2 separate regions of the Homo sapiens genome follow, and region 2 is linked to region 1. A link means that fine-mapping ties the variant in region 1 to the plasma level of a protein whose gene starts in the linked region. Region 1 holds a variant in brackets. A gene starts in the other region. All regions are shown on their forward strands.

The links. PIP is the chance, under the fine-mapping model, that this variant and not a neighbour inherited with it causes the effect. The UK Biobank Pharma Proteomics Project read protein levels with antibody pairs (Olink). The fine-mapping took linkage between variants from a reference panel, not from the people measured, so its PIPs are less certain.
Region 2: it holds the start of C6orf58, and the variant in region 1 is fine-mapped to the plasma level of the C6orf58 protein (UK Biobank, PIP above 0.99).

The regions. Positions count from the first base shown.
Region 1 is chrX:69,855,187-69,858,111 of GRCh38, forward strand. The region is part of intron 1 of EDA (ectodysplasin A); the gene reads left to right. Among named protein-coding and RNA genes, the nearest start is that of MIR676, 170 kb to the right of the region's middle. The variant T/C (reference allele first, on the strand shown) is at 1,808.
Region 2 is chr6:127,575,507-127,578,431 of GRCh38, forward strand. It overlaps C6orf58 (chromosome 6 open reading frame 58), which reads left to right and starts at 1,668. Exons shown (of 6, transcript NM_001010905.3): 1 at 1,668-1,980. The coding sequence starts at 1,680.

The sequences.
Region 1 (2,925 bases):
TATAGATGCAGATATTACACCTTTGTCAGATGCATGGTTTGCAAAAAATTTCTCCCATTCCGTAGGTTGCCTGTTCACTCGGTTGATAGTTTCCTTTGCTCTGCAGAAGCTCTTAAGTTTAATTAGATCACATTTGTCAGTTTTTGCTTTTGTTCCAGTTGCTTTTGGAAAGCAAAGATTTCTTCGTTGTGAAATCTTTGCCTGTTTCTATGTCTTGAATGATATCACCTAAGTTTTCTTCCAGGGTTTGTGTAGTTTTGGGTTTTACATTTAAGTCTTTAATCCATCTTTAATTAATTTTTCTATATAGTATAAGGAAGGAGTCCAGTTTCAATCTTCTGCATATGGCTAGACAGTATTCCCAGCACCATTTATTGAATAAGGAGTCTTTTTTCCATTGCTTATTTTTGTCAGGTTTGTGGAAGACCAGATGGTTGTAGGTGTGCGGCCTTATTTCTGGGTTCTCTATTCTGTTCCATTGGTCTACATGTCTGTACTTATACCAGTACCATGCTATTTTGCTTGCTGTAGCCCCATAGTATAGTTTGAAGTCAGATAGCATGTTACCTGCAGCTTTGTTCTTTTTGCTTAAGATTGTCTTGTATATTCGGGGTCTTTTCTGGTTCTATCTGAATTTTAAAATAGTTTTTTTCTAGTTCTGTGAAGAATCTCAATGGTAGTTTATTTTTTTGCTCAGCATTTTATTTATTTTTTATTTATTTCAATAGGTTTTTGGGGAACAGGTGATGTTTGGTTACGTGGATAAGTCCTTTAGTGATGATTTCTGAGATTTTGGTGCACCCATCACCCAAGCAGTATACACTGCACCTTATTTGTAGTCTTTTATCCCTCACCCCTCTCCCACACTTCCCCTCAAGTCCCCAAAGTCCATTGTATCATTCATGTCTTTGCATCCTCATAGCTTAGCTCTCACTTATAAGTGAGAATATACAATGTTTGATTTTCCACTCCTGAGTTACTTCACTTAGAATGATGGTCTCCAACTCCATCCAGGTTGCTGCAAATGCCATTATTTCATTCCTTTTTATGGCTGAGTAGTATTCCATGGTGTGTGTGTGTGTGTGTGTGTGTGTGTGTGTGTGTGTGTGTGTTGCAAATTCTGCTGCTATAAACATGCATGTGTAAGGTTTTTTTTTTCATATAATGTCTTATTTTCCTCGAGGTAGATACCCAGTAGTGGGATTGCTGTATCAAATGGTAGATCTACTTTTAGTTCTTTAAGGAAACTCTATACTCTTTTCCATAAAGGTTATACTAATTGACATTCCCACCAGCACTGTAACAGTGTTCCCTTTTCACCACATCCACACCAACATCTGTTATTTTTTGATTTTTTAATTATGGCCATTCTTGTAGTAGTGAGGTGGTATCACCTGGTGGTTTTGATTTGCATTTCCCTGATAATTTGTGATGTTGAGCATTTTTCATATGTTTGTTGGCTGTTTGTATATCTTCTTTTGATAACTGTCTATTCATGTCCTTAGCTTACTTTTTGATGCGATTATTTTTTTTTTTTGGAGGGGGCTGATTTGTTTGAGTTCTTTGTAGCTTCTGGACGTTAGTCCTTTGTCAGATGCATAGTTTGCAAAGATTTTCTCCCACTCTGTGGGTTGTCTGTTTACTCTGCTAACTGTTCCTCTTGCCATCCAAAAGCTCTTTAGTTTAATTAAGTCCCACCTATTTGACTTTGTTTTTGTTGCATTTGCTTTTGGGTTTTTGGTCATGCAGTCTTTGCCTAAGCCAATGTCTAGAAGGGCTTTTCTGATGTTATCTTCTAGAATTTTTA[T/C]AGTTTCAGGTCTTAGGTTTAAGTCCTTGATCCATCTTGAGTTGATTTTTTTGTACGAGGTGGGAGACGAGGATCCAATTTCATTTTCCAACATGTGGCTTGCCAATTATCCCAGAACCGGTTGTTGAACAGGGTGTCATTTCCCTACTCTATGTTTTTCTTTGCTTTGTCGAAGATCAGTTGGCTGTAAGTATTTGGCTTTATTTCTGAGTTCTCTATTCTGTTCCATTAATCTATGTGCCTATTTTTATACCAGCACCATGCTGTTTTGGTGACTGTAGCCTTATAGTTTGAAGTCCCGTATTGTGAGGCCTCCAGATGTGTTCTTTTTGCTTAGTGTTGCTTTGGCTATGCAGGCTCTTTTTTGGTTCCATATGAATTTTAGAATTGTTTTTTCTAGTTCTGTGAAAAATGATGAAGGTATTGTTATGGGAATTGCATTGAATTTGTAGATTGCTTTTGGCAGTATGGTCATTTTCACAATATTGATTCTGTCTATCAGTGAGCATTGGATGTGTTTCCATTTTGGCTATGCGGGCTCTTTTTTGGTTCTATATGAATTTTAGGATTGTTTTTTCTCGTTCTGTGAAAAATGATGAAGGTATTGTTATGGGAATTGCATTGAATTTGTAGATTGCTTTTGGCAGTATGGTCATTTTCACAATATTGATTATATCTATCGATGAGCATTGGATGTGTTTCCATTTTGTCTATGTGGGCTCTTTTTTGGTTCCATATGAATTTTAGGATTGTTTGTTTTATCTAGTTCTGTGAAAAACGATGAAGGTCTTGTTATGGGAATTGCATTGAATTTGTAGATTGCTTTTGGCAGTATGGTCATTTTCACAATATTGATTCTATCTATCGATGAGCACTGGATGTGTTTCTATTTGTTTGTGTACTATGATTTCTTTCAGCAGTGCTTTGTAGTTCTCCTTGTAGAGATCTTTCACCTCCTTGGTTAGCTGTATTCCTAGGTATTTTATTCTTTTGTGGCAATTGTGAATGAGATTGCATTCCTGATTTGGCTCTCAGCTTTCCTGTTGTTGGTGTATAGGAATGCTACTGATTTTTGTACATTGATTCTGTACCCTGGGACTTTGCCTAAGTTGTGTATC
Region 2 (2,925 bases), not on the chromosome of region 1:
TCACCTATTATATTTCCCAATTGCTTTTATATATAAAAGCTATTGATTTATATATAGTAATTTAGTTCTTAACCACTTTAGTAAATTTTTTCTTTGTAGTTACCCTTCTAGTTTATTCTCTTATGTTTTCTGAACACTGTCATATCATCTATAAGGGAAAGTACTAGCACATCTTCATTCTCAATTTTATACCTCTAATTTATTTATCTTTACTAACTTTATTGTTTGGTATCCTCAAAGAAAAGTTAAATGATTATAATGCTGGTGGTCATTTTTATTTTATTTCTGACCTTAAAGGAGTGCTCTTAAGATTTCTCCATTGAGAACAATCTGGCATTTGGTTTTAGAGTAACACATCTTACAGTACATATTCACGTATATATTCTTATAAACATTTAATATACTTTTAAAATTTCCAGAATGATTGCATTCTTGATCTATAGTAGCAATTCCTACCATTCCCTTTTATATTAATATATCTGGAAAATTTATTAATTATCAAATGGCTATTGGGTAAATAATATGACAGGAAAAAAGAGTGGAATCATGCTGTAGGATGTTTAATGTGGACCATGCCAGGAACAAGCAGTACCAGTGACCTACTATGAAGCATATGCATCTAATTGTGTAAATAATTGAGATTTTCAGATGCATTACCTATTAATAAGGCAAGAATTTTTACTATGTGTGAATAAAACTTCAATAACAGTGGTTGAAACAAGAGAGTGGGGTGTTTCTTGCTCAGGTAAAACTCAGATATAGGAATTCAAGGACATCTCATGGCTCCACAGCCCTCTGGGACTCAAGCCACCTCCAGCTTTGCATTCTGTCATCCCTAAGATAGTGCCTTGCGTTTAGGGGTCAGAATTGAATTTCAATCATCACATCAATAATCCAAGCCACAACATGGAGGAAGGGAAGAGGAATTGACATGTGCCCTTCATTTTAGGACATGTTCCAGAAATTGTGGATACTATTTCTATTTATGTCTCTGTGGTCCACACTTAGTCACATGGTTGCTTGTGTAAAGCAAATTGGAAATTTAGCCTTAATTCTGGGAGACCATATTCCCAGCTAAAATTCTACGATTCTTTTACTAATAAAGAATGAAAAATAGATATTAAGAATTAACTAGCAGGTTTTGTTCCAGCAGGCTGACTTTCATTATTGAATTGAGCTAATTAGATATTCTTTAAGCTTCTTTCTTGAAGCAGAACATTGTATTACAACTGGATCACACATATTTTTAGTACACATTTGAAGATTATTATAAATCCTAGTATTTCCATCTCCAGCTATTTAATATTTTCCATGAAATATGTTAAAGTATTTTTATTAGAGGGAAGCATTCTAAAGCCATTTGTGATGTATTTTGTAATCACAATGCAGCCTGGGAAACTTCTGGAAGGTTTTTGTTGATAAATAGTTTTATCTAATACATTATAAACAAGCCTAACCTTGTATTTAGGTTCTGACACAGTATTCTGACGCTGAAGAGTCTGGGAAATTTAATTGTCCTAAATGTTAGCTAATACATCAATTTCTTCTACATTTTCACCCTATCCAGGAAAACAAAAAAGCAAAGTGTTGATATGCTGTGAGGTTAGCAAATATCATGACTTCCTCTTCCATTCTCCAATAAAAGCCCTGCTACGATCGCAATCCCCAGCTCTGGCACAATGGCTTTTCTTCCTTCCTGGGTTTGTGTACTAGTTGGTTCCTTTTCTGCTTCCTTAGCAGGGACTTCCAATCTCTCAGAGACAGAGCCCCCTCTGTGGAAGGAGAGTCCTGGTCAGCTCAGTGACTACAGGGTGGAGAACAGCATGTACATTATTAATCCCTGGGTATACCTTGAGAGAATGGGGATGTATAAAATCATATTGAATCAGACAGCCAGGTATTTTGCAAAATTTGCACCAGATAATGAACAGAATATTTTATGGGGGTTGCCTCTGCAGTATGGCTGGCAATATAGGACAGGTAAGAATGACTCTTGTTTTCATTGTAATGATCTACCGATAGACCTATGAAGTATTTGGGAAATTGGACTCTGTATATACCCTACTATGTTTTTAAAAATTGATTCTTTATCTTGTTCTCTTTTCCCTTATAATCATTGTTTTTCTACCTATCCTTCTCCTTATCCACAAATCCTTCTTTTGTGGGTTGTGTGTTATTATTAGAAGCTTCAATGAGGCATAAGACATAGTTATCAACTGTGAAAAGACATCACATCTCATCTATTGAGCATTTCACAAATATTTGTTGAAGTTCTACTAAGTGCCACACTCCTTTCTAAGCAATGAGATGAACAAAACAGTCAAGGGGATATACAAAGTGATGTCCAATTAGTTTGAATTTCTTGAAGTTCTAATTATGATATGAGGTTATAAAGAAGCATCACATTGTTCATGAAGATCTTTCTCTGTAAAATGTTTGCTTCCTCTTGGAAATAAGGTACCTTACAGTGTATAGACAGAAGTTACATTTTGGGATAAAATATACATGAATTGAAAGATACTTTTGTTCTGGTTGATAGAAGCTCATGAGAAAGAGTGGTGCCTGTTGCCCACTCCCTGCTGATGACACAGCCAATAAAGAAATTATTGTGTGTGAGAGAGAGGTTAAGAAAAGAGCAATTTCATTTGGAAGAAAAACAATGATTATTTTCTAATATTTACATAATGCATATTACAGGTGAAACACCTTTGGTGCTTTTTCTCACCTCACATCACAACCTTATAATGTAGTTAATATTATTATCCCCATGTCATAGATGAGAAAACTAAGGCATTAGAGGTTATTTAGATAAAGTCAAGCTAGTAAGTGGTAGAGCAGGGGTTTGTTTTGACTCTCGACCATCTCTTTTCATCTGTATGCATATTGCTTCATAGTTTCGATTAGAAGGTAGAGGAGGAAATAGAA